Homo sapiens: one gene and its partners. The protein of the gene in region 1 interacts with the protein of each later gene in a pairwise test. Each region holds a gene or a part of one and is shown in the gene's direction. Other genes may lie near its edges. The genes, in order: RPS6KB1, UNG, CLEC3B, KIR3DL1 and DPPA4.

Evidence for each region.
Region 2: the proteins of RPS6KB1 (region 1) and UNG interact in binary tests that used the Homo sapiens proteins (3 or more experiments, as listed by UniProt).
Region 3: the proteins of RPS6KB1 (region 1) and CLEC3B interact in a two-hybrid assay, tested with the Homo sapiens proteins (one large-scale study listed by BioGRID and IntAct).
Region 4: the proteins of RPS6KB1 (region 1) and KIR3DL1 interact in a two-hybrid assay, tested with the Homo sapiens proteins (one large-scale study listed by BioGRID and IntAct).
Region 5: the proteins of RPS6KB1 (region 1) and DPPA4 interact in a two-hybrid assay, tested with the Homo sapiens proteins (one large-scale study listed by BioGRID and IntAct).

What each region holds. Positions count from the first base shown.
Region 1 is NC_000017.11:59,929,770-59,936,056, forward strand, and holds part of RPS6KB1 (ribosomal protein S6 kinase beta-1), read left to right. Parts: intron 1-347; coding exon 348-405; intron 406-588; coding exon of another isoform or gene 589-625; exon of another isoform or gene 626-663; intron 664-1,030; coding exon of another isoform or gene 1,031-1,103; exon of another isoform or gene 1,104-1,283; intron 1,284-1,852; coding exon 1,853-1,953; intron 1,954-4,400; coding exon 4,401-4,491; intron 4,492-4,664; coding exon 4,665-4,755; exon of another isoform or gene 4,756-4,759; intron 4,760-5,423; coding exon 5,424-5,531; intron 5,532-6,287. UniProt on the Homo sapiens protein: Serine/threonine-protein kinase that acts downstream of mTOR signaling in response to growth factors and nutrients to promote cell proliferation, cell growth and cell cycle progression.
Region 2 is NC_000012.12:109,102,407-109,108,693, forward strand, and holds part of UNG (uracil-DNA glycosylase), read left to right. Parts: intron 1-432; coding exon 433-521; intron 522-1,026; coding exon 1,027-1,205; intron 1,206-6,287. UniProt on the Homo sapiens protein: Uracil-DNA glycosylase that hydrolyzes the N-glycosidic bond between uracil and deoxyribose in single- and double-stranded DNA (ssDNA and dsDNA) to release a free uracil residue and form an abasic (apurinic/apyrimidinic; AP) site.
Region 3 is NC_000003.12:45,028,239-45,034,525, forward strand, and holds part of CLEC3B (tetranectin), read left to right. Parts: intron 1-1,904; exon of another isoform or gene 1,905-1,999; intron 2,000-2,588; coding exon 2,589-2,687; intron 2,688-6,287. UniProt on the Homo sapiens protein: Tetranectin binds to plasminogen and to isolated kringle 4. May be involved in the packaging of molecules destined for exocytosis. Plays a role in retinal function.
Region 4 is NC_000019.10:54,813,787-54,820,836, forward strand, and holds the start of KIR3DL1 (killer cell immunoglobulin-like receptor 3DL1 isoform 1 precursor), read left to right. Parts: upstream 1-2,681; 5' UTR 2,682-2,714; coding exon 2,715-2,748; intron 2,749-3,747; coding exon 3,748-3,783; intron 3,784-4,528; coding exon 4,529-4,813; intron 4,814-5,926; coding exon 5,927-6,226; intron 6,227-7,050. Other genes in the region: KIR2DL4 (killer cell immunoglobulin-like receptor 2DL4 isoform c precursor), read left to right, coding at 56-325. UniProt on the Homo sapiens protein: Receptor on natural killer (NK) cells for HLA Bw4 allele. Inhibits the activity of NK cells thus preventing cell lysis.
Region 5 is NC_000003.12:109,327,547-109,331,753, reverse strand, and holds part of DPPA4 (developmental pluripotency-associated protein 4), read left to right. Parts: coding exon 1-20; intron 21-941; coding exon 942-1,230; intron 1,231-2,665; coding exon 2,666-2,864; intron 2,865-3,729; coding exon 3,730-3,766; 3' UTR 3,767-4,207. UniProt on the Homo sapiens protein: May be involved in the maintenance of active epigenetic status of target genes. May inhibit differentiation of embryonic cells into a primitive ectoderm lineage.

The sequences.
Region 1 (6,287 bases):
TTTTCTACCTATGGGTAAAATGTTAAAGAGTCTTTAATCAATATATATATTTTTTAACCTCAGGTCTGGAATCTACAGATATTTTAAAGTTTGTAGATATAAAACCTGGAATTCCAAGCCAGTTCTAGTTTTTAAATATATGTGTGTCACAGAAGAATAAGAATGCTACTAAAAATAGAATCCTGAGGACTTAGTTTTAAAACCTATAATTTTTAGGATCTGTTTTTCATTTTTAAGGGGCTGATGTCTTTTAATTATGGTTAGAAGGAAAGCACAAACTCTCTCATTAGAAGTGGGTTGGAAATAAATATTGTTTTATTTATAATGTTTTTTCTTTTTCTTTACAGGAGGAGAACTATTTATGCAGTTAGAAAGAGAGGGAATATTTATGGAAGACACTGCCTGGTAAGTGAACTTTTTGTGGTTGCATAGATTCAGGTAATTACAAGCAAAGCCCCATTCCCACTATGGGCAGCCACATGATTCAGTAAATTGAGCTGGAGCCAGTCACTCACTCAGGACCTCAAGGGGGAGAAGCAGTTTTGGGACTGGGCAGCTATGGAGGTCACATCATTCCTTTGCCCTTAGGCTTGAGTGGAACGCTCTTCACACCAGTTGTTCCTAACAGAACCATTCTCATTGCGGCTTTCTTTCCTTGAATTGGTAAGCTGCCTGCCTTGGCTGTGGGTGAGTGTGGTTTCCCAGTGAACCTTTATGTGTGGAACAATGGAAATTATCAGAAATCATCCCTTTTTTTTTAGGCTTTCTATTTCTCAAGGTACAGTCTTAGGGAGGTGATAAACCTGGGCATATCATCTGTAGATTGATTATGTAGTCAGGGTGGGATTTACCCTCCTATTTCTAAACATGTCATCTGCTTCAAATTAAAAATATGCACATCCTTTTGTGAAGCAACAATATTGGGTCACAATAAATCAGTTTATCCTACACATTAATTTAATAGAAAACAACACTTAAATGTTTTTTTCTACCTTGATTACCAAAACTGCATTCCATTGTTTAATTTCAGGCCTTTTCTAACAAAGAAGCTGCATTTAAGAGCCTTAGGGATGAAGTGCCCTTTTTTGGAGGAGGCTCACTGAGCCGTGTTGGAGGCTGTGTTTGTGGTCGTGCTGGCTGTGAAACTGCCTCAGTCCTCTAGGACACACCCTCTCCATCCTGGAGTAATCTGCAGGATTGCAACATTGTTATGCAGCCAGTATTGCAGTGCCTTGTGCTTTTCGAATCCAGACAGGGTTGATTCAGCCCTTTATTCTTTTGAGGTAGATAAATTTGGGTGTCACACAGTTTATAGTTGTGGGCTGGCTGGCAGGTGGGAGGGCAGATACTGTGGGCCTCAGCTGTCTATAAATATGTAGCTGTATTAAGTAAGGGATGAGTGGGCTTCTAAGGGTCAGGTTATAAGATACCTTTTGAAATCAAGATGTGATCTCTGAGAATAACAAAGTTCCTATTTCCTATGGGATTTTAAAGTTGGGTGTGGATGGGAGAAATTTGCTTGAAATGAATGGCTATTAGCTTAATTCCTACACAGACAGAACAAAACATGACCAATGGCAGTTTAGCATATTCTGGACATCTTTGCAATTTTAGCAATATATTCTAATGGCAAAATAAAGCACTTTATAGTTTCACTAAAATGAGTGAAACATAAATGTCCCCATGCCTTTTGGCAGCATCCTATGCCATCTCTTTTTCCAATACATCCCCCTACCCCACTAATTTGGTCTTTGGTGCATGTCTGTTTCTTTCAAGGAATTTTGCTCCATACGTAAACTGCTTTGGATAGATTACACTCTTTTTAATTTTATTAAATCACTTTTGTTTCCAGCTTTTACTTGGCAGAAATCTCCATGGCTTTGGGGCATTTACATCAAAAGGGGATCATCTACAGAGACCTGAAGCCGGAGAATATCATGCTTAATCACCAAGGTGGAGACATACCGTAAACAATTCTATAGTAAATAATCATCTTAAAATCCTCCCACATAGGTCGTGGCCATTTTCAAAGCCCCAAATTCATCTCTCTATTTTGTATATTTCCTCCCTCAGAATTCATGGCATCATAGTACTTGCTGATATTTTAAGTCTTTAGGTAATTACGCTTGGTGAGAGTAAAAGAAGTTGAGGATAATAGTCGCTCAACTGCCTTTTTTAGTTTAATCCTTACTCTTTATAGTTTTTCATGTTTTTGGAATCTTTACATCAAATGTTGTATAATGTTTTAGACTGTAAAAGCCAGTCTAAACATTAATTTTGGCTTGTTACTTAAATTGAAAAGTGAATCTCAATTATATAAGTTGAGTTTTAATAATGAAAATATGTAAATATTGGCTGGGCACAGTGGCTGACACCTGTAATCCCAGCACTTTGGGAGGCTAAGGTGGGTGGATCACCTGAGGTCAGGAGTTCAAGACGCCTGGCCAACATGGTGAAACCCCATCTCTACAAAAATACAAAAAAAAAAAAAAATTAGCTGGGCATGATGGTGGGTGCCTGTAATCCCAGCTACTCAGGAGGCTGAGGTGGGAGAATCGCCTGAACCCAGGAGGCGAAAGTTGCAGTGAGCCAAGATCGCGACATTATACTCCAGCCTGAGTGAAAAGAGCGAGACTCCGTCTCAAAAAAAAAGAAAATATGTGAATATTAGAAGCTATGCTTCTTACAGTAGGTTTTATTAATGCTGGGAAAAGGATTGAAATTGAACCAAAGTATTTGATAAAACTTTGGAAATATGATGTTTAGTAGGCATCAGGTTACTTTTTTTTTTTTTTTTTTGAGATGGGGGTCTCACTCTGTCATCCAGGCTAGAGTATGGTGGCATGATTACAGCTCACTGCAACCTCCGCCTCCCAGGCTCAAGTGATCCTTCCACCCCGGCCCCTCAAGTAGCTGGGGCCACTGTGGCACACCACCACGCCTGACTAATTTTTGGTATTTTTTGTAGAAATGGGGTTTCATCATGTTGCCCAGGGTGGTCTCAAACTCCTGAGCTCAATTGATCTGCCTGCCTTGGCCTCCCAAATTGCTGGGATTACAGGCATAACCCACCTTCCCCCCAGCCAGAATCAGTTTATTCTTGCTGTTTGTTTGTAACAACAAACATAAACATCAGAGAGACTGATAATCTATACAACTATAGATATAGCACAGTGAGCCTTGACTACAACTGCATGCTGCTAAAGACAGCTCAATTTATGCTAATCTGGGCTGTAGGTAGACTTGGCAATTCACTCGTACCCCAAAGGAGCAACCAGCTGACCCAGGGTATCTAGAAGGTGGTAGCAGCTGCTAATCCTTAGATGTCTACAGAATAATCCATGAGGTAGTTAATTGTTTCAAACTCTTAGAAAATGATGTATGAACAACTGAGGCTCATATAAACATTCCAGATTATACTCCTCCACCCACCTTTTTTTTTTTTTTAAGGAGAAATGATATACTTAACTGAATATATCATGGGAATCAGTGTCTCTTCCTTCCTCTCATCAACACCTCCTCACTCCCCAAAACGTGGATTCTGATCTGAATTATAAGTCACAGGATAGAATAGGGGAGCGATAGAATAGTTAACTTCTTTGATTTATAAGGTTGAGTGTATCAGATGGTTCTGTGAAAATAAAGGCCATACTTCTTCTGTATCAGAGTGTAGTATATATTTACATTTGAATCAATAGGTCATTGTGCCTTTTCTGTGAAATGAACCTCAAATACTAGAGTCCCTGAGATTGTTGAACCACTTGTTATGACAGTCCAGTAAAGAAAGCTAAACTTGAACTGAAATGATCTTTGTGTAAGGTGGTAAGTTTTTTACTTTCTGGATCAGTGATGATTGATTCATACTATCTAGCAATTTTCTTTCTTTCCCCTAATTGGTAGCATTGGGCAGAATGAGCTACCTTGTTATAATGAGTTTCTGAGACCATTTTAAGGACTCTTCACAGTTCACTGTGATAAAAGCTATATATTTGAAGTACTGTCTCACACCTTTGTTCAAAAGGTACAGAGTATGTTTATTGGGGTCTGTGTACGTAAACTAGACTTCATAAAACAGTTTTCCCAGGATTTTTCTTTTTCAGGATGGTAGAGAATTTTGTATATACTTAAAGCTAGAGCCTTAAACAGGTTATTTCACTTTTTTCTCTATCTTTATTTTCTCTTTACTAGATAGATTGTATCATTGGCAAAAGGTGACTTTGCCCTAGCCTTAAACAGTTAGCATCCCATTTTATGGATGGTACCTTGTTCTTGACATCTGCAAGAAAATTTGAGGCAAGAAAAGTTAAATGGAAGGATAGATTAAAGTATTATGTGACATGTTCAAACACTGCACATACTTATAATTCGGAGAATAATCATGCTGTAATCTTTCATTGTAGGTCATGTGAAACTAACAGACTTTGGACTATGCAAAGAATCTATTCATGATGGAACAGTCACACACACATTTTGTGGAACAATAGAATACATGTGAGCTACATGTTAAACATAATTGGTTTGGGGGTAATAGCTAATTTTACCTGTTTTAAGGAATAGTATCTGTTTTCTGTACCCTCATTGACTCTGTATATTGTTTTTAAAATTCTAATTCAGATGATATGCAAATGGGTGAATTTTTAAGCATATTATTTTCCTCATTGTAGGGCCCCTGAAATCTTGATGAGAAGTGGCCACAATCGTGCTGTGGATTGGTGGAGTTTGGGAGCATTAATGTATGACATGCTGACTGGAGCAGTAGGTGCACAGTTAAAAGCTGCATGTATTATTGGTCTGTGCTGAGTCACTATAGCAAGAGACCTGTCCTGTGCTTTCTGAACATGTTACCAGTGGAGTTTTCAAAGCCCAAAGATTTGTTATTAGCAGTTTAACACTAATAATGCTGTATGATTATATGGGATCCCATACTTTCCGAAACATTTTCTTTTAAATGATCTATGTCATGGCAGGCCTGTGAAATAGATGTTGAATAGATAATGCCCTTATTTTATAAATGGAGAAATTGAAGCATAAAATCACATAGCTCACTTATCACACAGAAAGTTAATGGTGGAAACACAGGCTTCCTTCCAGGACACTGCTACTTCCTCTGTCCTGTTGCTTAAAAACTGCACGTCTGCCGGCCACAGTGGTGCATGCCTGTAGCCTAAGCTACTCAGGAGGCTGAGGTGGGAGGATCATTTGAGCTAAGGATTATTAATAGAATCTAGCCTTGACAACATAGTTGAGACCCTGTCTGTAAAACAAAATAAAGGTCTTTAGCAGTTAGCCCATTTCACAGCATACATTTCTGATCTCCATGTATAACTAATTTAGGAAATGGATAATATTATTCAAAATTTGTTTCTTATATGCTAATATTTTTCTCTCCCTGCTAATATTTTTCACTTGTCTTCTACTCTTAGCCCCCATTCACTGGGGAGAATAGAAAGAAAACAATTGACAAAATCCTCAAATGTAAACTCAATTTGCCTCCCTACCTCACACAAGAAGCCAGAGATCTGCTTAAAAAGGTAAGGTTCTTAAATGGTCACTGACACTACAAGATTCAATGACTAGGATTTAACTAGATAGAATTTAATGTATATTTTGAATAAAGAGTCATATATAAATATTGAACAAAAAAGTCTTCAATTTTTGAAGGCGAAGTACAGATTTGTTTAAAGACTTTCTTTTCATATTCTTTTTTTAAATTTTTTTTTTTTGAGACAGGGTCTTGCCCTGTCACCCAGGCTAGAGTGCAGTGGTGCGATCTTGGCTCACTGCAACCTCAGTCTCCCAGGTTCAAGCGATTCTTCCGCCTCAGCCTCTCAAGTAGCTGGGATTACAGGCACCCGCCACCACGCCCGGCTAATTTTTGTATTTTTAGTAGAGACAGGGTTTCACCGTGTTGGTCAGTCTGGTCTGGAACTCCTGACCTCAGGTGATCCACCTGCCCTGGCCTCCCAAAGTGCTAAGTGCTGGGATTACAGACCCTTAAACAATATTAAGTAGTAATTAGTAAACTATATTTTCTTTTCTTTTCTTTTCTTTTTTTTCTGAGATGGAGTCTTGCTCTGTCGTCCAGGCTGGAGTGCAATGGCATGATCTTGGCTCTCACTGCAACCTCCACCTCCCAGGTTCAAGTGATTCTCCTGCCTCAGTCTCCCTAGTAGCTGGGATTACAGGTGTTCACCACCACGCCAGGCTAATTTTTGTATTTTTAGTAGAGAAGGGGTTTCACCATGTTGGCCAACCTCGAACTCCCAACCTCAGGTGATCCACCTGCC
Region 2 (6,287 bases), on another chromosome or scaffold:
GGCGGAGGTGGCAGTGAGCCGAGATCCTGCTACTGCACTCTAGCCTGGGTGACACAGCAAGACTGGAAAAAAAAAAAAAAGAACCACTGCTTTTGGAGGATTTGGTGTATGATATACATAAATATGCTAAGGACAGAAAACTGTCCCTGAGCAACAGTGGGGGTCTGGGTTGTAACTGCTGGGTTGATTTACTTAGGTTTTCCAGAGTGCTGTTAAATCCAAGTACAGACTAAAGTAAAGGTCTTTGGCAGAGTCACCTGTTAGAAGGAGGACTGGCAGTGTTGATCTCATTAATCGGCGCCATATGTGCCAGTGTCCCTTCCAAGGGCTGGCTGTAACTTCTAACCTTTTCACATATGTCTTAGACGTTACTGAGCTTTCAAAATTATGCTTAAGATTCTGTTTTTTGTTTTTCTTGTGGCTTGCTTTCAGTTTGGAGAACATTTATAAAGAGTTGTCTACAGACATAGAGGATTTTGTTCATCCTGGCCATGGAGATTTATCTGGGTGGGCCAAGCAAGGTAAGCCAGCGACTGCTAGATTTTTTTTTTTTTTTTTTTTTTGAGACCGAGTCTCACTCTGTTGCCCAGGCTAGAGTGCAGTGGTGCAATCTCAGCTTACTGCAACCTCTGCCTCCCAGGTTCAGGCGATTCTCATGCCTCAGCCTCCTGAGTAGCTGGGACCACAGGCATGAGCCACCATAGCTGGCTAATTTTTTAATGTATTTTTAGTAGAGACAGGGTTTCACCATGTTGGCCAGGCTGGTCTCGAACTCCTGACCTCAGGTGATCCGCCCGACTCGGCTTCCCAAAGTGCTGGGATTACAGGCATAAGCCACCACGCCCAGCCCCGACTCCATTGTTGATGGTAGTGGCTGCTGCCATTATGCCGGCTGCAGCAGGGAAGCACAGCTTGCTACACTGGATCCCATCAAGCATTGGTTTCATCATGGATTTAGCTCCTGTTGCTGGGTATTGGGCTGATTTGCCTGAGCCTACATTTAACCTGTTTCTCTCATGTGTATAGGTGTTCTCCTTCTCAACGCTGTCCTCACGGTTCGTGCCCATCAAGCCAACTCTCATAAGGAGCGAGGCTGGGAGCAGTTCACTGATGCAGTTGTGTCCTGGCTAAATCAGAACTCGAATGGCCTTGTTTTCTTGCTCTGGGGCTCTTATGCTCAGAAGAAGGGCAGTGCCATTGATAGGGTATGTTTTGTTTTCTTTCTTTTTTTTCTTTTTTTTTTAACACTATAAAAACAATGTAAAGAATTCTAGGAGTCCCTGCTGTGTTTGGTCCTGGAAAATCCATGTTATAAAATAACTTTTATTTTCCCTTAGGCCTGTTATAAGGGTTTCCCATTGAAAACTGAGAAGAATTTGGACAAATTATAGGGGTGATGAGTTGTGTATGAGGAAAGCAAAGCAACTGGCCAACTTGTGACTGAATGCAGTTGGTGCTGTAGGCATGAACTTGGTGTCTACAAGATACAAGTCCCTGGGTACCATTCACTTAACAAGTGATGGATGAGGCATGTTTCTGGCTTCCAAGAAATTTGGGAACATATAGAAAACACAAAGAATTCCACTCAATCACAAATTTAACTTGCCCATGAAAATACTATCAGTGATCATTATTGTTTTGTTTCTGGGTTTTTTGTTTTTTGATGGAGTCTCGCTCTGTTGCCCAGGCTGTAGTGCAGTGGTATGATTTTGGCTCACTGCAACCTCCGCCTGCTGGGTTTAAGTGATTCTGCCTCAGCCTCCCGAGTAGCTGGGACTACAGGCGCCCGCCACCACACCCGGCTGATTTTTTTTTATTTTTTAGTAGAGACAGGGTTTCACCATGTTGGCCAGGCTGGTTTTGAACTCCTGACCTCAAGCGATCTGTCCTCCTCAACCTCCAAAGTGCTAGGATTACAGGCATGAGCCACCACACCCGGCCTATCGGTGATCATTATTAACCCCAAGGTCTAATTGCAGATACCCAACACGACCAAACCAGTGGCTCCCCTCCCTACATCTTCCCCCTATCTGCTACCTCCCTCTTTCCCTTCACTCACTGAAGCACTTCTACACCTGGTTGTGGAAATCAGAGACCTAAAAGTCATCCTTGAATCCTCCATCCCATCAGTAAATCCCATCAACTCTGCCTCCCAAAACACCCCAGTCTACTGCTTCTCATTCGCCACTGCTGCCCTTCAGGCATGAGTCACCATCATCTTTCTCCAGGAGAACCGTGATGGACTAGAGATGGAGGCTTGATGGAGAGCCGCAGAGTGGAGGAGGGAGAGATAGGGGGTGGGAAGGAGACGAGCCAGGGGTGTGTTCATCCCTGGCAAATGGGAGAGACATTGGGTGGGGGAGAAATTATAGAGTAAATGCTTCAATGATCGAAGGCAAGGGCTTAGCAGAGGTAACCTGACAATAGTTTTTGGTGTATCAGCAGGAGGTAACGGGGGTATCAGAAATGTGCACGTATATTTAACCCCTACCTTGTGTGGGTACTAGGTTGAGCACTTTTGTTTTTTGAGATGGAGTCTTTCTGTCACCCAGGCTGGAGTGCAGTGGCATGATCTCGGCTCACTGCAACTTCGCCTCCTGGGTTCAAGCACTTCTCCTGCCTCAGCCTCCTGAGTAGCTAGGATTACAGTTGCCTGCCACCACACCCAGCTAATATTTTTTATTTTTAGTAGAGACTGGGTTTCACCATGTTGACAAGGCTGGTCTTGAACTCCTGACCTCAAGCGATCCTCCCATCTTGGTCTCCCAAAGTGCTAGGATTACAGATGTAAGCCACCGCACCCGACCAGGTTGAGTACTTTGCATGCAGAATCTTACTTAACTCTCAGAAAGGCTTTGAGGTAGGCATACACTTGTATGAGTGACCTAAGATCTGACTGGTATGAACTGCTAAGATGTGATCATCTAGGTATGTAAGAAGTGTGCGTGAGAGTAATTGCTAATCTCTATCCCTTAGGGAGGTTTACGGCCAGTGTTGCTCTTCCGCAGTATATTGGTAATCTTTAATCATGGTTTGGTCTGAAAGTAAACAGTTGTTAAAGTAGCTTGGTCATTAAAGCCAAATTGCATATCTCCAGCCCAGTGTCTCTTCTGATCTATAGAGTGCCTTGTTACTACTGCCCCATGAACATGCCAAATTCAACATTTTCCAAACGAAGTTTCTCCTTTTCTCATCCATGCTTCACTAAACTTCCTCCTCTGCACTCCCTAGCAGCAAAAAGCACCATCATCTGCCCAGTTGTCCAGCCAGATCTATTACTGACACCTGCCTACCTCTCTTTCTCCCCTCTTCTGTCCTTTTTTTCCACCTTCCCAGTCAGTCAGTCATTCATATCTGTGTTCTTTCTTCCCCCTCCAAATCTACCCCTGCCTGACCACCTTTGCCTTCATTCAGGCCCTCACCTGATCTTGCCTGGAGGGTTCTGATGCTTTCTCCCTGGAAGGCCTTGCCTTAGGCTGAAGATCTGATTTCAGGGGGGTAGAGGGGTGGCCCCCAATCGGCCTCCCAGACTTAACTCTATCCCTCTTTGCACTCCGATCCCTAGGCTGACCCATTCCCCTTTACTTTTTCACGGTGCCCCACTTCCCTGCCTTTGCATATCCTGCTTTCTCTGCCTACAGTGTAGAGGTCATTTTCTTCTGGGATTCTTTAGAGCTCTGCAGGGCTGACATTTACAGGGGCCTGTGCTGCTTGCGTGTGTGTTCAGCATTTGGTGTGCATGACTTCTTATCACACTCAGCCCCTGTGATCCTCATTTGATTGGTCACAGTAACTTCATAAGCTGGGCGGTATTGTTATTCCCAGTCTACAGATGAAAACTGAAGCAGCTTAGAGTTGCAGCAACTTCTCTGTGGTACAGCTACTGAGGGTAGAGGTAGGCCTCGACCCCGGGCAGTCTGGCTCCAGGCTCTGTACTCTTAACCACACTGGATTGCCTGGCTTTAGTCCTCACCCCTCATCGCCCCTCCTGGACTGAGCCCCTTGAAGGCAAGAGTGTTTTGAGAAACAGTGATTTGTTCGTTAGTTTTTATATACAGAAAAGAAGAGGAAAACAAAAATGGTCTATATCTCCCTGTTAAAATAACTATAGTTGATATTTTAAAAAAATCAAAGTAGTCATTTGCCACATAATGATGTTTCAGTCATAAACTGTATATATGACGATGGTCCCATAAGATTATAATATTCTGGCCGGGTGTGGTGGCTCATACCTGTTATCCCAGCACTTTGGGTGGCCGAGGCGAGTGGATTGTCTGAGCTCAGGAGTTTGAGACCAGCCTGGGCAACATAGTGAAACCCTGTCTCTACTAAAATACAAAAAATTAGCCAGGTGTGGCGGCGTGTGCCTGTAGTCCCAGCTACTTGGGAGGCAGAGGTTGCAGTTAGCTGAGATCATGCCACTGCACTCCAGCCTGGCAACAGAGTGAGACTCTATCTCAAAAAAAAAACATATATATATATACACATATATATATACGTATATATATATGTGTATATATATATATATAAAAAATATTTTTACTGCATCTTTTCTATGTTTAGATACACAAATGCCTACCATTGTGTCACAGTTGCCTATAGTATTTAGTACAGTAACATGCTACACAGGTTTGTAGACCAGGAGCAATAAGCTACACTATATAGCCTAGGTGTGTAGTGGTAGGTTATCCCATTTGGGTTTGTGTAAAGATGCCCTGTGGTGTACGGATAGCAGTGAAATTGCCTAACAACACACTTCTCAGAATGCATCCCTGTCATTAGGTGATGTATGACTATTGCTTTTTTTCTTTTGAAACAGGGTCTAGCTCTGTCACCCAGGCTGGAATGCACTGGCTTGATCTCAACTCACTGCGGCCTCAACCTCCCAGGCTCAAGCAATCCTCCCACCTTAGTCACCTGAGTAGCAGGGACCACAGGCGTGCGCCACCACACCTGGCTAATTTTTGTATTTTTTTTTGTGGAGACAGGGTTTCACCACGTTGCCCAGGCTGGCTCTTGAACTCCTGGACTTAAACGATCCTCCTGCCTCGGCCTCCCAAAGTGCTGGGATTACAGGCGTGAGCTACCACACCTGGCCACTGACTATTCCTCTTTTTTTTTTTTTTTTTTTTTTTTCTGAGACAGTTTCACTCTTGTTGCCCAGGCTGGAGTGCAATGGCGTGATCTCAGTTCACTGCAGCCTCCCCCTCCTGGGTTCAAGTGATTCTCCTGCCTCAGCCTCCTGAGTAGCTGGGATTACAGGCATGTACCACCACATCCAGCTAATTTTGTATTTTTAGTAGAGACGGAGTTTCTTCATGTTGGTCAGGCTGGTCTTGAACTCCTGACCTCAGGTGATCCACCTACCTCAGCCTCCCAAAGTGCTGGGATTACAGGTGTGAGCCACCACGCCCGGCCAACTATTCCATTTTTGTGGCGAGATTTTTTTGTTTTTGTTTTTGTTTTTTAATTCTTCCTTCTTAGGAGCTGTAAGACTATTCAGAGAGTTCAGAAAGGCACAAAATGGAAAGTAAATGGCTTCCACTCTTTCTCTTAAAGGAACTACTAAATACAGTGTCTTGGGTATTTTTCTAAAGTTTTTAAAAAATGAAATTATTTTGCATTTTGTTCACTTGGTAAATTTTGGAGGTCATCTCATCAGTATATTTATCTTTCGCATGTTTTTCTAGGAGTTATGTGGTTTTACATTGTAAGAACTTTAGAAAAATACATTTAGCCAGTTCTGTAACACTGAATTGTATACTAGGTTTTAGCTGACATAAGCAGTGTGTCAGTCCCTTTATATGTACCTATTTGTGTAGGTACAACTGGTCCCTGGCTTATGAAGTTTGACCTGATTTTTTTCGACTTTACAATGGTGTATAACCATACTTTGAGCACTCACACGTTGTTTTTTTTTCTTTCTTTAAGAGACAGGGTCTCTTGGCTGGGAGCAGTGGCTCACGCCTGTAATCCCAACACTTTGAGAGGCCAGGGTGGCGGATCACTTGAGCTCAGGGGTTTGAGAACAGCCTGGGCAACATAGTGAGACCTTGTCTCTAAAAAACACAAAAAATTAGCCTGGTGTAGTGGCACGCACCTGTGGTCCCAGGTACTCAGGAGGCTGAGGTGGGAGAGTAACTTGAGCCTAGGAGGTGGAGGCTACAGTGGGCCACAGTCATGCCACTACACTCTAGCCTGGGTGACAGAGTAAGACCCCATCTCAAAAAATAAAAAATTAAAAAAAAAGATCTTGCTCTGTCACCCAGGCTGGAGTGCAGTGGCAC
Region 3 (6,287 bases), on another chromosome or scaffold:
ATCATCTGGGAGATACATTAGAATCCAGGTGCCTTGGCCAGGCGTGGTGGCTCAAGCCTGTAATCTCAGCACTTTAGGAGGCCAAGGTGGGAGGATCGCTTGAGGCCAGGAGTTCAAGACAAGTCTGGCCAACATGGTGAAACCCTGTCTCTACTAAAAATACAAAAATTAGCTGAGTGTGATGGTGTACACGTGTAGTCCCAGCTACTCAGGAGGCTGAGGCAGGAGAATTGCTTGAACCTGGGAGGTGGAGGTTGCAATGGGCCGAGATTGCACCACTGCACTCCAGCCTGGGTGACAGAGTAAGTGAGACTCCGTCTCAAAAATAAATCAATAAATAAAATAAAAGTTAAGAATTCAGGTGCTTGGGCCCCACCCCTGGAAATGCTGGTTTAGGGATCTTGGTGAGTTTAGCATCTGCCTTTTCCACAGGTCTTCAGGGATTCCTAGGAGCAGCCAGGAATGAGAATCTCAGGGGCAATCTAGTTGCAGGGCTGGTGCCCAAAAGTACGGGAGAAAGTCCAAAGAAGGGACGGTCATGCCAGAGGAGACCAGTTGGTGCCAGGGCCAAGAGGGGGAGAGCAAGTGGCAGGACTGGCAAAGGAAGGGAATGCCAGCATATGCTAAGTCCTTGTCCTGGCCCTCAGGGTGGGTGAGAAGCGGGGAGCCTAGAGTACTTCTGGGAGCTCATCTGTTCTTGGGGCCACATGGTCACACCTGGCAGGGAAGCTCCGGAGGGAAGGATGGCCTCATAGGAGTCACAGGCCTTTAGAACAGGGAACTGGGGGAACCTGGAGGGCATCCATTCTAACATCACGCAGAAGGAACCTGAGGCTCAGAGAGTGGGCCAGCACAAAGGCCTCCTGACTCTGCCCAGGGCCGTAGAGACACCTACTCCCACAGCTTCCTCAGGTGGAGCTAATGAGAGTAGCTTCCTGTACCTTGGACAGTCCCTGGAGGAAACTTTGCACATATGGGCACCTTGGTGCAAATTACAAAAGGTACCTCCTCTAAACTGACAAATTATAGAAAGGCATCTCTTTTTCTGGTCTGACCCACTCTAGCCAGGGCAAGGCTTAGGAGACAAATGGGCCTTCATGTGTCCCTCAGCAGAATGCCCTTCTTCAGTGCCCCCTTGCACAGCCTCACATGGCACCCTATGCTGGTACATCACGTGACTGGGTACAGTGCTGCTATAACTGGTGGAGGCAGTCTCTGTGTGAGGCACACATGACCTCAGGCTGGTTTGCCAGCCCCAAACTCTCCCTTTTTTTGCCTTGCTCATCAGGGTGTTTTTGCTCCAGTTTGGTAAGTTACATCGCTAATTTCTATATACACAACCATGTGTCTTGCCTGTGATTCTTCTGCAAAGGCACCTTATGGGTGGACGAAGGCTCTGATCTCACTCTTTGTGAGTGTGGAATGTATGCAGACACAGCCAAATGGACCATTAAAGTGTTTCCCCACCCACTTCCCCAAGCTGAGTGCAGCCTTTCCTGAAGCCCTGGTGTTTCAGAAAGACCAGGGTCCGCCCCAGGAGCTCTAAACTTACACACACATAGAAATATGCTTCCCGGCACCCTCAACTTACACACACATAGAAATATGCTTCCCCGCCTTCCCCTGCTGACTCTTACATGACTGGCTGCCAGCAGGACAGCTCCTGTTAGGAATCCGTTTGTGTGCCATGGGGAAGGTGGGGAAGAGCATGGCTTCAGAGCCATGTGCACCTGGGTTCCAGGCCAGCCCTGCCAGCTGGGGCTCTGCCATCCTCGGCCAGTTGGTTTAGGGCAGCCTGGGTTTCCTCATGGTGAAATGCTGGTGGTACAGAATGACACGTTACCTGTGTCATAGGGTTGATTATGAGCATCACATGGGGTGACATGTAGAACGGCTTAGCCCAGAGCCTGGCCTCCTCTGTAAGAGTGGAAAACCTGGGTTCCTTCTGCCCTCATCTTATTAGTAGCTGTGATGGGCACACACTCAGCCAAGCACTGAGGTAGGCAGCTCTGCGTTTCAGTTCTCTTAGTCTTCTCCAGAGTCCTAGGAGGTGGGGCTGTCATCATCCACTTCATACATGAGGGAACCAAATCCAGAGAGGCTGAGCAGCTCGCCCAGGCCACCCGTGTCTGTGGCACCTCCAAGCCCTGCATATGCGTGCCCCAGGCTGGAGTGCCTGCTGGTCTGTGTCGCATTCCTCCAGCCTGGGGAAGTGAACCTGGGGGCTTCTTGAGGGCTCCTGCTGTGCTTCCTGTGCTGTTCTTCCCTGGAGCTGAAAAGGTAGCTGGGTGGTGGGGGATCACTGAAGCCTGTGCCTACACCCTCACCCCTGCCTCTGCTAATCCCAGCCCCATCTGATCCCCAGCAACAATCCCAAACAAATGCAGCACAGGAGCAAGTGAAGGATGGGCCCCCTGGCAGAAGTCACAAGTGGTTAATTAGACTACCACCAGCAAGGATAGAGAGAGAGAAAGTTTCCCAAGATATCAAGGTTGAGGGGAGTCTTTTCCTCTCATCCCTCTGCAGCTAAGGTAGGATCCTTCCTGCTCAGTCCCTGCCCCACCCTGACATATTTCCTCCTGCTTCAGATGTTGTGAACACAAAGATGTTTGAGGAGCTCAAGAGCCGTCTGGACACCCTGGCCCAGGAGGTGGCCCTGCTGAAGGAGCAGCAGGCCCTGCAGACGGGTGAGTGCAGGCAGTAGCCTCTCTGGGCAGGAGCGTCTGAGAGAAGGGCCCAGGCCAGCAGCCAGCAATGCTCTTCTCGCCTCCGTTCAGCATCAGGGTCCTGGCTCCATTAGTCCAGGCCTATGGGTGAAGGCACCAGGTTCAGGGAGCCCCACCTCTTTCTCTTGGGGAGATCCCCTGACACGTGTCTGCAAAACTCACCTGGATGTGTACGGCCAAATCTCTGGCCACAGCTGGGTGGTGTGGAAGTGGGGATGTCCCAAGAGGACAAAAAATTCTCCAACAAGAATCCACTACTGCCCACCAGAAGTGACCCTGGAGCGCTCGATGGGGCAGAGGTAGTGGCCCACCCTAGCAAAGCTCCCAGGAGCCCCTCACTCAGCTGGCCTCTGCAGCCCCAGAGAGCTCCACACTCCTGTGTGTCAGCAGCTTTGCTGACCCTGTCTCTCTTAATCGTAACTCTGCTGAGGTGGGATTTGTCAGCTCCATTTTAAAGATGAGCTGTCAGCTCCATGAAATGTCAGCTCCATTTTAAAGATGTGTCAGCAGCAACTGAGGCATAGACAGGTCCTGAACCTGGCTCATACTCACCTCGTTGGTTAGTTGACTCGTGGAAGAGCAAGAGTTGAATGGAGGCAGGCTGCCCAGTGCCAAGCTGGGCCTTGGTGTTCCTGGCTCTGCACTAGCCAGCTGAGGGAGGGTGCACAGAATCACCAAGAACAGGGCCCAGGCGCATGGTAAGGTCATGCCCTCTGGCCAGCATACCTGGCAGCCTATTGTTTCTCACTCCCCATGTTCCTGTCATATAGTCTGCATTTTCCACATACCTCCGATTTACCTACCTTTATATGACCTCACCTTCCATTCTATGGAGAACACAGACTCACAATACTGATGACTATTTACATGTGAGCCCACTACATTCTGGCACTGTTCTTGATGCTTGATGCAGACTCACAATACTGATGACTATTTACATGTGAGCCCACTACATTCTGGCACTGTTCTTGATGCTTGATGCACGTTAACTCATTCACAGCACACCCGTGCAGTGGTCCTGTTACTACATCCTCACCCTTATTTTCCACCGAGAAGGACCTTGTGACAGCCGAAAGGAGCAGAGCCTCACTTAGCTCTGCTATGCTGCCCCTCGAGTTATCAGCTGGGAAATCACCTTGACTCCTCAGCAAATCTATAAACCACCCTGTGTCCACAGCCACTCTCTTACCTGTTGCTTTTGTGACCAAGGCCCATCCATCTGCAAGGCCTTCCCTTCCCCGCCTGCCTCCTCAGAAACCCCCAACAGCCTTCTCACCGGATGGTTTTACACACTCCCTCCCATTCATATGCTTTCCTTCAGCATTCACACTGCCATCCTTCTGCACTCCCACCACAGGGCCTTTGCATGTGCTGTTTGGGCAACCTGAATTGCTCCCCCAAGATCCACCTAATAAATGCCTCCAGCATTATCTTCTCAGGAGTCACTAATCCCTCATCTCAATCAGCTCCTCAGTTATAAGCTCTCCCAGAACAGTGTCCTTTCTTTTATCACACTGACTGCAGTCTGTAATGATACACTCATTTCCTGATTTGTGTCTGCTGCCTCCACTAGACTATAGTAAGCCCTGAGAACACAAGGGCCATGTTTGCTTTTCATTGCCCTTGTCTCTTCCACTACCCTGCCCAGCATAGTGCCTGCCACATAGCAACACTCAGTCAATCTCTGTTGAAGGAAGGACAAACATGTAACTTTGGACAGCTTGCTTGGCATGGCAGGTAGGAAGAGAGTGCTCGAGAAAGGGAGCATCTCCAGAGGTGTTTTTGACTTCATGTAATAGGAAACCTATCAGTGGCTTAAACAAAAAGTAAGTCTGCAAGTAGGTAGTTATAAGTTTTTGTTCAGAAGTTTCACCTCATGGTCTTCAGATGGCTGCCCCAACTCCAGGCATCATGAGTGCATTCAAGGCAAGAAGGAGGAAGAGTAGCCCAACCACATCTGTCTCATTTATAGGGAACGTAGTCTTCCACTTCCATCTCATTGACAAGAAATCTATCATATGGCCACCTGCAGCTTTAAGAACATCTGAGAATGCAAGAATGTAGCTTTTCCAGCCTCTATAGTGGAGGTGGACAAGAGAGAAGGGATTTGGAGGCAACAGTGCCTGGCACAGCGGGTATGTTTAGAATGAGCCCAGTGCCACTCTGAGCCTCAGTTTCCTCATCTGTAAGGTAGGCAGGGTAAACTCTAAGGTCTCTCTCATGTCTAAGCTCTGTGCTGTGCAAAGTCAATGTAACCCAGGCATCAACTGCCACCTGGGGTGAGGTAATGAGGTGGGGACCTCCCTGAAAAAAGTTCATGACATATGGAGGCCCAAAGCATGACATATGAAAGCCCCCATGTCTGCTGATTTCTAGGAAGCTGCTGGGCTTCTTGGGGCCTTCTCCTGTTCATTGTCCTCACAACCCAAAGATCACCTTTTCAATAAACCCACCCAAAGCATTGCAGAGCTCTGTTGACCTAACCAGAGTTGAAGGAATCAGGGGGCAACCTTTCCCTCCTCCAACCAGCATACACATGGGAGGTTCCCACCTGGTACATCTCTGCCAGGCACAAGGAGGCAGAGGTGATGCAGCCAGGGCCCTGCTCCCTGGGAACCTCAATATATTCATGGAATCACTTGAGCCCTTGAAAGCTGTGTAGGAATCAGAGAAGATAAAGAGGGTTGATTCCAAGCAGATGGCAGGGCAGGAGCAGAGGTGTGGAGGACTAGCATAAATCGACAGGATCATGAATAGACCAGAGCAACAAAATGTTGGCAGCAATGATAGTATCACGAGAAGTAGCATTGACTGAGGACTACCTATGTGTTGGAGGGAGGTTCAGGTGAGGGTCCTAGGAAGCAACTCTGAGATGGAGTTTAACCCACAGGAGACTTATCAGGAGATACCCTCAGGATCAACCCCTGTGCTAGGGAAGGGATGGAAGGAAGCAGGAGTGGGCAGAAGGAGAAGTCGAGCTGTACTGTGGTGCCACGAAAGCCTCAGCTGACTTCAGGAGCCCTGATGACGGGATGACCCTTCGGCACTGTCCTGAGTCGGGGCAAGAGGGCTTATGGGTCAGTCTTGGGTGTAGGCTGCTCTAGGGAGGGGCACGGCCTTGGAAGAGATGGCTGTCTTCTGCTGAGGCAGTCCCTGCAGGAGGCTGAAAGCTGAGGACTTTCTTCCTGCAGCATTCCTGGCAGCCAGGGCAGTGAATCCTTCATCCCCAACAAAAGTCTAGGTAGCACGTCAGTGTTACCAGCAGGAAGGAAAGGCAATGAAGGCCGCTTGGCTAAGCTGTAGGATAGCACGAGGTAGGACAGCTGACTTGGGGCAGAGTCTGTGGGTAGACACCTCTGTAATGCTTCAGGCCCCATGTTTAAAGTCGGTTGTGGTGTCAGATGCCCATGGGGACACTGGGATGCTGTCCATTGATATTTGTTGAGTGAAATGGAAGTAACTGAGTGGGAATGGATAGAGGGGAGTGCAGACATCCCCCAAAGTGGTGGGGTCACCAGCAAGAGGACAAATGCAGACATACACCTGTCTGTCAAGATATTC
Region 4 (7,050 bases), on another chromosome or scaffold:
AATAGTCCTGAAAAATGTGAACACCCTCCCTCACTCAGGATTTCCCTCTCTCCAGGACTCTGATGAACAAGACCCTCAGGAGGTGACATACGCACAGTTGGATCACTGCATTTTCACACAGAGAAAAATCACTGGCCCTTCTCAGAGGAGCAAGAGACCCTCAACAGATACCAGCGTGTGTATAGAACTTCCAAATGCTGAGCCCAGAGCGTTGTCTCCTGCCCATGAGCACCACAGTCAGGCCTTGATGGGATCTTCTAGGGAGACAACAGCCCTGTCTCAAACCCAGCTTGCCAGCTCTAATGTACCAGCAGCTGGAATCTGAAGGCGTGAGTCTCCATCTTAGAGCATCACTCTTCCTCACACCACAAATCTGGTGCCTGTCTCTTGCTTACCAATGTCTAAGGTCCCCACTGCCTGCTGCAGAGAAAACACACTCCTTTGCTTAGCCCACAATTCTCTATTTCACTTGACCCCTGCCCACCTCTCCAACCTAACTGGCTTACTTCCTAGTCTACTTGAGGCTGCAATCACACTGAGGAACTCACAATTCCAAACATACAAGAGGCTCTCTCTTAACACGGCACTTAGACACGTGCTGTTCCACCTTCCCTCGTGCTGTTCCACCTTTCCTCAGACTATTTTTCAGCCTTCTGGCATCAGCAAACCTTATAAAATTTTTTTGATTTCAGTGTAGTTCTCTCCTCTTCAAATAAACATGTCTGCCTTCATTCTTTAGGTGACTCTTTTTTTGGCTGAAAGTTTCCAGTGTTATCATTACCATGTCCAAATAACTCCAACTGTTCTCCACTGGGTTCTCACCCCTGGACTTGGAGCTTCTGGAAGCAGGGTGGAGCCTGATTTGTCTCTGAGACTCCAATTTCCATCCAAAGATGCAGCACATAAGAGGTTCCAAGGATCGTGAATCACATGAACAAGTGATATTCTTACTCTCTGCAGACCTGGAAAGCTGGCAGAGTCATTCCATGATGAAACATTTGTAGAGTCATAGGCCTTGTTAGTCTCATCTCCACGGGGACACATATCAACACATCATCTTTCATACTATAAATATACAGTCGGTCCTCTGTATCTGTGGGATTTACAGGTGTTTATTGAACCAAATATAAATCAAAAATATTCAGAGAAAAAATCCACAAAGTTTCAAAAAGCAAAACTATGTTGAATGGACACAAATGAAGCTGTGTGTAGGCTGTATCAGGAATTATAAATAATCAAGGGATGATTTCATGTACACAGGAGGATGTGCATGGGTTATTTGCAAATGCTGTGCCATTTCATGTAAGAGGCTTGAGCGTCTGCAGATTGTGCTATCTGAGTGGAGATCCTGAAACCAATCACCCACGAATAGTGAGGGATGACTGTATATAATTTTTATTTCTCAATTTTAAATATAAAACATAAAAAAATTACAATAACAAGATAAAATAAACAAGTGTTTTATAGTGTGAGAATACGTTTAGATATATTTTTCTCTATGTGTAACCCTTGGGCCCATGTTATTTATTGAGAAGACATTCTATTCCACCTTAAACCACATGGCAGCCTTTGTCAACTATAAAGGGACTGTGTGTACACGGATGTATTTTAGACACTGTTTTCTGCTCAGTGGCTCTCTCTCTGTCCACTCTCTTGAGAATGCTGCATTTTATGCAGCCTTATACAACCCCTAAAATTTGGTAGCTGGAGTCCTCTAGTTATTTATTATAGGCTATTTGCTATGCTTTTTTTATTTTTCTTGAGGCAGAGTCTCGCTCTGTTGCCCAGGCTGGAGTGCAGTGGCACGATCTCGGCTCACTGCAACTTCCGCCTCCCAGGTTCAAGGGATTCCGTGCCTCAGCCTCTTGAATAGCTGGCATTACAAGTGCCTGCTACCAGGCATGGCTAATTTTTGTATTTTTAGCAGAGACATGGTTTCACTATATTGGCCAGGCTGGTCTCAAACTCCTGACCTCGGTTGATCACTCACCTCGGCTTCCAAAGTGCTGGGGAAATTGATTTTCTATAGCATTATGTTACTGGATATTTCTGTAAAATTTAAAATGAGGGAGGCAGAGAGACAGAGAGAGAGCAAACCATGAGTTGGAACTCTGGAATCTTGGGACATGAGACAAATTCTAGATAAATCTACAAAAATCCAGAATTTACATGTTGTGATTTTTGCTGATAAAGTACAATTCTAAGATTGTAAATAATTGCATAATCCTTCCCTGGGAGTTTAAATCATTTGAACTGGTTCTGCTGTAATACTAGAAATACAATCATGAAAAATTCTAATGGTTTATTGTCACAATTGCTCTGAAAACCTTAATAATACCTATTAGATATTTTGCATATTACACAGGAAGAAGAGTTTGAATCTCAGATAAAAACAATAAAAATACATGAAAAGTCTTTCATGTTAGCACAGATTTTAGGCATCTCGTGTTCGGGAGGTTGGATCTGAGACGTGTTTTGAGTTGGTCATAGTGAAGGACGCGAGGTGTCAATTCTAGTGAGAGCAATTTCCAGGAAGCCATGTTCCGCTCTTGAGCGAGCACCCACTGGGCCTCATGCAAGGTAGAAAGAGCCTGCGTACGTCACCCTCCCATGATGTGGTCAACATGTAAACTGCATGGGCAGGGCGCCAAATAACATCCTGTGCGCTGCTGAGCTGAGCTGGGGCGCAGCCGCCTGTCTGCACCGGCAGCACCATGTCGCTCATGGTCGTCAGCATGGCGTGTGTTGGTGAGTCCTGGAAGGGAATCGAGGGAGGGAGTGCGGGGATGGAGATCTGGACCTGGAGGTAAAGATATGGGCCTAGAGGTGGAGTTATGGGCCTAGAGGTGGAGTTATGGGCCTGAAGTGGAGATCTGGGCCTGGAGTGGAGATCTGGGCCTGGAGTGGAGATAGGGGCCTGGGGTGGAGATATGTGCCTGGAGTGGAGATCTGGGCCTGGAGTGGAGATATGGGCCTGGGGTGGAGATATGTGCCTGGGGTGGAGAGATGGGCCTGGAGGGGAGATATGGGCCTGGAGGGGAGATGTGGGCCTAGAGGTGGAGTGATGGGCCTAGAAGTGGAGCGATGGGCCTGGAGTGGAGATATGGGCCTGGAGGTGGAGTTATGGGCCTGCAGTAGAGATATGGGCCTGAAGTGGAGATATGGGCCTGGAGTGGAGATATGGGCCTAGAGGTGGAGTTATGGGCCCGGAGGTGGAGTTAAGGGCATGAAGTGGAGATCTGGGCCTGGAGTGGAGATATGATCCTGGAGTGGAGATATGGGCCTGGGGTGGAGATACGGGCCTGGAGCAGACATACAAGCCTGGAAAGGAGATATGGGCCTGGAGAGGAGATAGAAGCCTGGAGTGGAAATATGGGCCTGGAGTGGAGATATGAGCCTGGAGTGGATATATGAGCCTGGAGTTGAGATAGGAGCCTGGAGTGGAGATATGGGCCTGGAGTGGACTTACCAGCCTGGAGAGGAGATATGGGCCTGGAGTGGAGATACGGACCTGGAGTGGAGATCTGGGCCTGTTGTGTAGATCTAGGCCTGGAGGTAGAGATCTGGGCCTGGAGGCTCAGTCTCTGCACAGCCGAGATCCTTGTTCCTGGGGGCAGGTAGGCAGCGAGGGTGAGTTTACCTTCAGCCCAGCAAGGGCCTGGCTGCCAAGACGCACAGCCCAGTGGGGGCAGCAGGGTGCCCTGGTTTGCCTGCAGAGGGATGGTCCATCATGATCTTTCTTTCTAGGGTTGTTCTTGGTCCAGAGGGCCGGTCCACACATGGGTGAGTCCTTCCCCAAACCTTAGGGTGTCATCTCCCCACATAAGAGGATTTTCCTGAAATGGGAGGGAAGTCCTGTCGGGGAGTCTCTCATACACTAGGAAGAGGGGACCCTCGGATGCTCGGCCCACATTTCTGACCTTGCCTTCCCCGGCCTTTCATTCCCTTTCCTGAGTCAAGCTCTGTGAAGACTGGGGTGAGACTAGGGTGCTCCAAGATGGGTGTGCAGGGAGGAAGTGGTGTCAGCAGCAGAGAAAGAGAGGGAAGCAGTGCTAGGAACAGCAGGTCCTCTGAGGACAAAGGTGTAACTCACACCCTCCAGCGTTTCCGTGATGGTAGGGGCTGCAGTGTGGCTGCGGTCTTTCTACCAGAAAAGGTGAGGAAACCACAGCCATGGCCCTGACATTCCAAATCCTCTGATGGGGGCTCAGTTCATCAATTGGCTGATATTCCATTCACATAGGACTTGCCCTCCATGCCGTGTCTACTTTGTGTTGTTTTATATGAGTAATTTTGCAGTATTAAAATCTAGTAAGAGTTGCTTCTCCAGCAACTTGCTCAAAGTTCTCAGCTGACACTTGTTGTAGGGAGACGCCAAGTCTATGCAGGATGGGTCCTTCCTGTAGCCCTGGGCACCCAGGTGTGGTAGGAGCCTTAGAAAGTGGAAATGGGGAGAATCTTCTGGGCACTGGGAGTGAGGGGCGGCTCCACATCCTCCTCTCTAAGGCAGTGCCTCCTTCTCCCCCAGGTGGTCAGGACAAACCCTTCCTGTCTGCCTGGCCCAGCGCTGTGGTGCCTCGAGGAGGACACGTGACTCTTCGGTGTCACTATCGTCATAGGTTTAACAATTTCATGCTATACAAAGAAGACAGAATCCACATTCCCATCTTCCATGGCAGAATATTCCAGGAGAGCTTCAACATGAGCCCTGTGACCACAGCACATGCAGGGAACTACACATGTCGGGGTTCACACCCACACTCCCCCACTGGGTGGTCGGCACCCAGCAACCCCGTGGTGATCATGGTCACAGGTCAGAGGCTTTCCGTCTGGGCTTCTCACTGTCCCACCTCCTGAATCCCAGAGCTTCTGGTGGGGGTGTCCGTCAGGGTCCCATCACCCAGGCCCTGACTGTATTTGGGGTCAAGGGAGATTGAATACAGGGGAAATGGGTGCTGTGGTGGGAAGAATCACTGTCCCCAATGATGGCTACATTGTAATCCCTGGAGCCTGTGACTATTTATGTTACAGGGCAGGGGACTGAAGGGGAAGGTGGAGCTCAGGTTGTTGATGAGTTGACCTTGAGATGGGGAGACAGCCTGGACTGTCCCACTGGGCTCAGTGTAATCACAAGGGTCCACATGAGAGGTGGAGGAAGAGGGGAGTGGGGATTAGAGCAGTGTAGTGGGAGGGAGACGCTATCAGCCACTGCGGGCTTTGAAGGTGGAGGAAGACCACTAGTCACAGAATGCAGGTGGCCTCTAAGGGCTGGAGAAGTCAAGAGAACTGATTCGCTGATTCTCCAGAGGGAACGCAGCCCTGTAGACACCTTGATTTCAGCACAGGGAGAACTGGATCCAATTTCTGTCTCCAGAAGTGGAAGGGGTCAGTGTGTTCTCTCCCGCTGCCATGTTTGTGGTAATTTTCTGCAGCAGCAACAGGAAACCAACACAGGAACCCAGGTCAAGGACAAGTTAGGAAACCAAACAAGGATAGCCAGATGTGGTGGTGGGCACGAGTAATCCAACGACTGGGGAGGCTGAGGCAAGAGAATCACTTGAACTGGGGATTTGTTCAAAAGAGATTGATTCAGGCTGCTAAGAGCCTGGACATGCAGCCTGTCCTCTTCCACCCCCACATAGACAGCAGGAAAGAGATTAGTGGGAAACAGATACAACAGCCCAAGAGATGAGGCTGTCTTCACAGTGGCAAGGGAGTCAGGGGCTACTGGAGACAGAGGGACAGAGAAGAGGGAGGAAGACAGATGGAGGCACCTGCACCAGGGGATATGGGCACAGAAAAGACACGGAGATGCAGAGAGGGAGGAGAGAGACAGACACGGGGAGGGGAACCCTCACTCATTCCAGGTGCCATGGATGGGATGATAAAGAGAGATGCCTTCTAAACTCACAACTTCTCTTTCTAGGAAACCACAGAAAACCTTCCCTCCTGGCCCACCCAGGTCCCCTGGTGAAATCAGGAGAGAGAGTCATCCTGCAATGTTGGTCAGATATCATGTTTGAGCACTTCTTTCTGCACAAAGAGGGGATCTCTAAGGACCCCTCACGCCTCGTTGGACAGATCCATGATGGGGTCTCCAAGGCCAATTTCTCCATCGGTCCCATGATGCTTGCCCTTGCAGGGACCTACAGATGCTACGGTTCTGTTACTCACACCCCCTATCAGTTGTCAGCTCCCAGTGATCCCCTGGACATCGTGGTCACAGGTGAGAGTGTCTAGACATTGTTCTCATTGTCACTGGGACACAGAGTGAATGATCCAGGACTTGGAACCCCCAGGTGGTCATGAGGAAGATAAGTGTGGGATTCTTATGGAAAGAGAGTGACTTGGTGAGGTCTGTACCAACAGAGACAGAGAAACAGGAGACATAAGTACAGAACAGGTGTCATAACAGAGGACAGACACAGGGGCCATACAGGGAGGTAGAAAAGAGAGAAAGAGGTAAAGGAGACACTCAGACAGACAGACATGTCCCAGAGAGAGGTGTCCTTCCATGCTGACTTTGCTCAGAGACCTGGCACAGGTTAGAAGTTTCATTTCTGTTTTACCTCCACAAAGTGTTCCTACCAGAAGAACCCAAGGACACCCATATTTCTGACCTGAGTTGGGCCCTGTGGCCTCAGGCCTTGTGCCACCTACAGATGCCGTGTTTATTCTGACACCTCTGCCTTCCATGCAATGGAGAGTAATCATCCCAGGATATCATGGCCCCTGAACACCAACCCCTGTATGCTGTGTGAACTTGGGGTCCCCAGACTGGATTCTGAGGCTCATATTCCAAATAATCCCACATATGATAGGATCGCTGAGAGACACAGAGAAAAATCAGGGACACCAAAAAGCAAAGACATAAACACACACAAAATGAGCCAGAAGAAGGAGATTAAGAGATTCACAGACACATAAAAAGAAAGAAAAGAGGGCAGAATGGAGAGAATGATGGAAAGGAGGAGAGAAAAGCCCCAAAATCAGAACCCTGAGGGAGGGACACAAAGACAGAGAAAGATAAATATGTGGGGATGGATTGCA
Region 5 (4,207 bases), on another chromosome or scaffold:
TTGCCTACCCAAATCAAAAGGTAACTTTTTAAAGGATGGACGTTTCAATGCTTATCCTAATTACCTATTGTAGCCTCAAAAGTGAGTAAAGGAACTGTCTTAGCCTCACCTTGTTCCTCCACCCCTAGTTCTAAGAAAGAACAATATTTCCCATCTCTACTTCTCTTTTTTTTCTTTCTTTCTTTCTTTTTTTTTTTTTTTTTTTTTTTTGAGACAGAGTCTTGCACTGTCACCCAGGCTGGAGTGCAGTGGCACCATCTCGGCTCACTGCAACCTTCACTTCCCGGGTTCAAGCAATTCTCCTGCCTCAGCCTCCAGAGTAGCTCGGATTACAGGCGCCTGCCTCAGGTGATCCACCCACTTCGGCCTCCCAAAGTGCTGGGATTACAGGCGTGAACCACTGTGCCTGGCCAGCAATTTTCTTTTTTTCTATTTTTTTCTTTTCATTTCTTTTCTTTTCTTTTCTTTCTTTTTTTTTTTTTTTTTTTTTTTTGAGACAGAGTCTCCCTCTGTCACTTAGGCTGCAGTTCAGGCTGCAACCTCTGCCTCCCTGGTTCAAGTGATGCCCCTGTCTCAGCCCCTGGAGTAGCTGAGATTACAAGCATGAGCCACCATGCCTGGATAATTTTTGTATTTTTAGTAGAGACGGGATTTCACCATGTTGGCCAGGCTGGTCTCGAACTCCTGACCTCAAGTGTTTCACCCACCTTGGCCTCCCAAAGTGCTGGGATTACAGACCTGAGCCACTGGGTGGCCAACTGAGCAATTTTCAAGAAGACAGTACATTGTTATTAACTATGTATAGTTACCAACTTGTACAATAGATCTCTTGAACCTAGTCCTCCTAAGTGAAACTTTGTATTTGATCAAGAGCTCCTTAGGCCATTTTTGTTAGAATTTTAATCTGTATTTTTATCTTTATTATTTAACCCTTTTTGTAGGATTTTCCTAGCACAGCAAAAGAGGCCAAAATCCGGAAATCATTGCAAAAAAAATTAAAGGTGGAAAAGGGGGAAACGTCCCTGCAAAGTTCTGAGACACATCCTCCTGAAGTGGCTCTTCCTCCTGTGGGGGAGCCGCCTGCCCTGGAAAATTCCACTGCTCTCCTTGAGGGAGTTAATACAGTTGTGGTGACAACTTCTGCCCCAGAGGCTTTGCTGGCCTCCTGGGCGAGAATTTCAGCCAGGGCGAGGACACCAGAGGCAGTGGAATCTCCACAAGAGGCCTCTGGTAAGCGCAACATGAAGAGCTTATTCTGGTCCAATGGGGAAATAAGCTTAGTAGATATTAATCACTGGTACATTTTAGGGTATATCAAAATCCCTTTGAGGGCCGGTGATTCCTGGACCCTGCCCACAGAGTTTCTGGTGCAGGTCTAGGGCAGGACCTGAGCATTTATTTGCATTTCTTTTTTTTTTTTCCTTTTTTTTTTTTTTTTTTTTTTTTTTTTTTTGAGACAGTTTCTCCCTTGTTGCCCAGGCTAGAGTGCAGTGGCGCGATCTCAGCTCACCGCAACCTCCACCTCCCAGGTTCAAGCAATTCTCCTGCCTCAGCCTTCCTGAGTAGCTGGGATTACAGGCATGTGCCACCATGCCCGGCTAATGTTGTCTTTTTAGTAGAGATGGGGTTTCTCCATGTTGGTCAGGCTGGTCTCGAACTCCCGACCTCAGATGATCCTCCCACCTTGGCCTCCCAAAGTGCTGGGATTACAGGCGTGAGCCACCGTACCTGGCAAGAGTTTGCATCTCTAACAGTTTCCCAGGCAGTACTAAGGATGCTGGTCTGGGGACCACAGTTTGAGAACCACTGCTCTAAATTATTGATGGCATCAGAAGGGGATAGCAGTCTGGTTTTCTTTCTTTACCCTTTAAGCAATTTAAATTAAAGGCAAGGTCTAAAATTAATTGCCTGCAACTGAGCCCCAGAATGGCATTAATAAGTTATTTAAAATATTTCCCAGCGTTTTCATTGTAAAATGGGTAATACCTACCTTATATGTTGGAAGAATTACAGAAAGTACAACAAAAGAAGACAAACTGCTTAGCATAATCCAATGTGTGTTAAGAGCTGAGACCCCTGAGCTTATTTCATGAAGCCCTTTCCAGACACTCTGGGTTAGTCTTTCTACCATCTGCCCACCTACAACTATACTACTTCCAACTAGATTTTTAAGTTTTAACAGGAACTGTCTTGTATGCTTTTTGTTTTGTTTTGCTTTTGATATGGAGTCTCGCTCTGTCACCCAGGCTGGAGTGCAGTGGTGCAATCTTGGCTCACTGCAAGCACCGCCTCCCGGGTTCACGCCATTCTCCTGCCTCAGCCTCCTGAGTAGCTGGGACTACAGGCCCCCGCCACCACGCCTGGCTAATTTTTTGTATTTTTAGTAGAAACGGGGTTTCACTGTGTTAGCCAGGATGGTCTCGATCTCCTGACCTCGTGATCCACCCGCCTCGGCCTCCCAAAGTGCTGGGATTACAAGCGTGAGCCACTGCGCCCAGCTTGTATGCTTTTCTAAAGGAGAACAGAATAGAGAAGAGGTTAAGTTAGGATTTCAGGGTTCACATCTTGGAGCTGGTCAATCAAGGGTGATGGGCCATAATGCAGTCTTACATCAGTATGTCATCCTGGTGTGCGGGTACCTGTCTCTTTCCTTTGCCATTGCCAGGTGTCAGGTGGTGTGTGGTCCATGGGAAAAGTCTCCCTGCAGACACAGATGGTTGGGTTCACCTGCAGTTTCATGCTGGTCAAGCCTGGGTTCCAGAAAAGCAAGAAGGGAGAGTGAGTGCACTCTTCTTGCTTCCTGCCTCCAATTTTCCACCCCCGCACCTTGAAGACAATATGTTGTGCCCCAAATGTGTTCACAGGTAATTACCTGATGCTTTTCTACAAACTAAAAGTGGGTGCCGGATTTTCAATTGCAGAAAGTTAAGATATACATTAATCTTAAATAGCCAGGTATTTCAAGCTCAAATTGTCAGTAAAGAGTTTCAAGAAAATTATTACTCAGTTAAGTTTATCCCCAGGAAAAAGAAAGCATTTATGTGTCAGGGTTTAATGCTTCTACCTGGAGACACAGAATTCTGGGAGCAACAAACATTATATAATTACTATATTCAAAGTGTATGCTCTACACAGAAATAATGACTAGCAAAAAACCTCTTCCTTTAAGTAGCCTACAGTCTTAACAGGGATGGTGGGCATGTAAACACCTAGAATAACATGATGAATATCAAAGAAGAGGTTCCTTAAGTTAAGGGAAGAATCGACTAGATGGAAAGGAGAGATCGGTAATTTCTCAGCCTGGGAAACGTAGCAAGACCATCTCCCACAGGAGGAAGTATGTGAATGTGTGATTGGCTTTTCCTTCTTTGGGATATCCTACTTTTTGCTGTGAGTGTTTTGATAATCTCTCTATGCCAAGCAAGTTGAAGAGAACTGAGGAGGTCACTTTGGGTAGTCCTTTAATGACATACTTAGGTTTTTGGGAAAGTGATGAAAAGAGCCCCTCCAAGGCCTCCTGTCCATGGTTGGCACAAGTCAGGGAATATATTACAGAGGCATGATAACTTGGCTGATGATCTTCATTCTTGAATGACAGGATCACAGGCTTGCTACCTATGATCCTAAAGTTGTAAGGGCAATTTCAACAGCATTCCAGCAGCGGGTTTCTTGGCTATTTTTAATATTTCTTCATTCTTTTTAAAAACAAATACTTTATTTGCTTTATAGGAACAAGGTCTTAATAAAAAGCCTCCAATGGGAATAGAATATCAGGAAAAAGGCCACATCTATGGTAATTAATGGCAGAAAAGCTGGAGAGTTGGATTCTGCGGTGCTGCTGACAGGTGAACTCTGGTCCTCTGCACCTGTTTATGGGCCATGCAGACTGGTGGGGTGGCAGATGTTAGCCTAAGACCCCTAGCAGTGCCTGTTGCTTTGTGAGTGGAGATAGAGACTCTTACATTTAAAAATGGAAAAACATTTCACAAATTACCATAAATTGTAGTTAATATGTAGAAAAACTCATTCATACTACTTTTCTAAAATAGACATGACTTCAGCAGCAGCTTTTTTTTGTTGTATTTTGAGACAGTGTCTCACTGTTGCCCAGGCTGGAGTGCAGTGGTGCAATCTCAGTTCAGTGCAATCTCCGCCTCCTGGGTTCAAATGATTCTCCTGCCTCAGCCTCCTGAGTAGCTAGGTACAG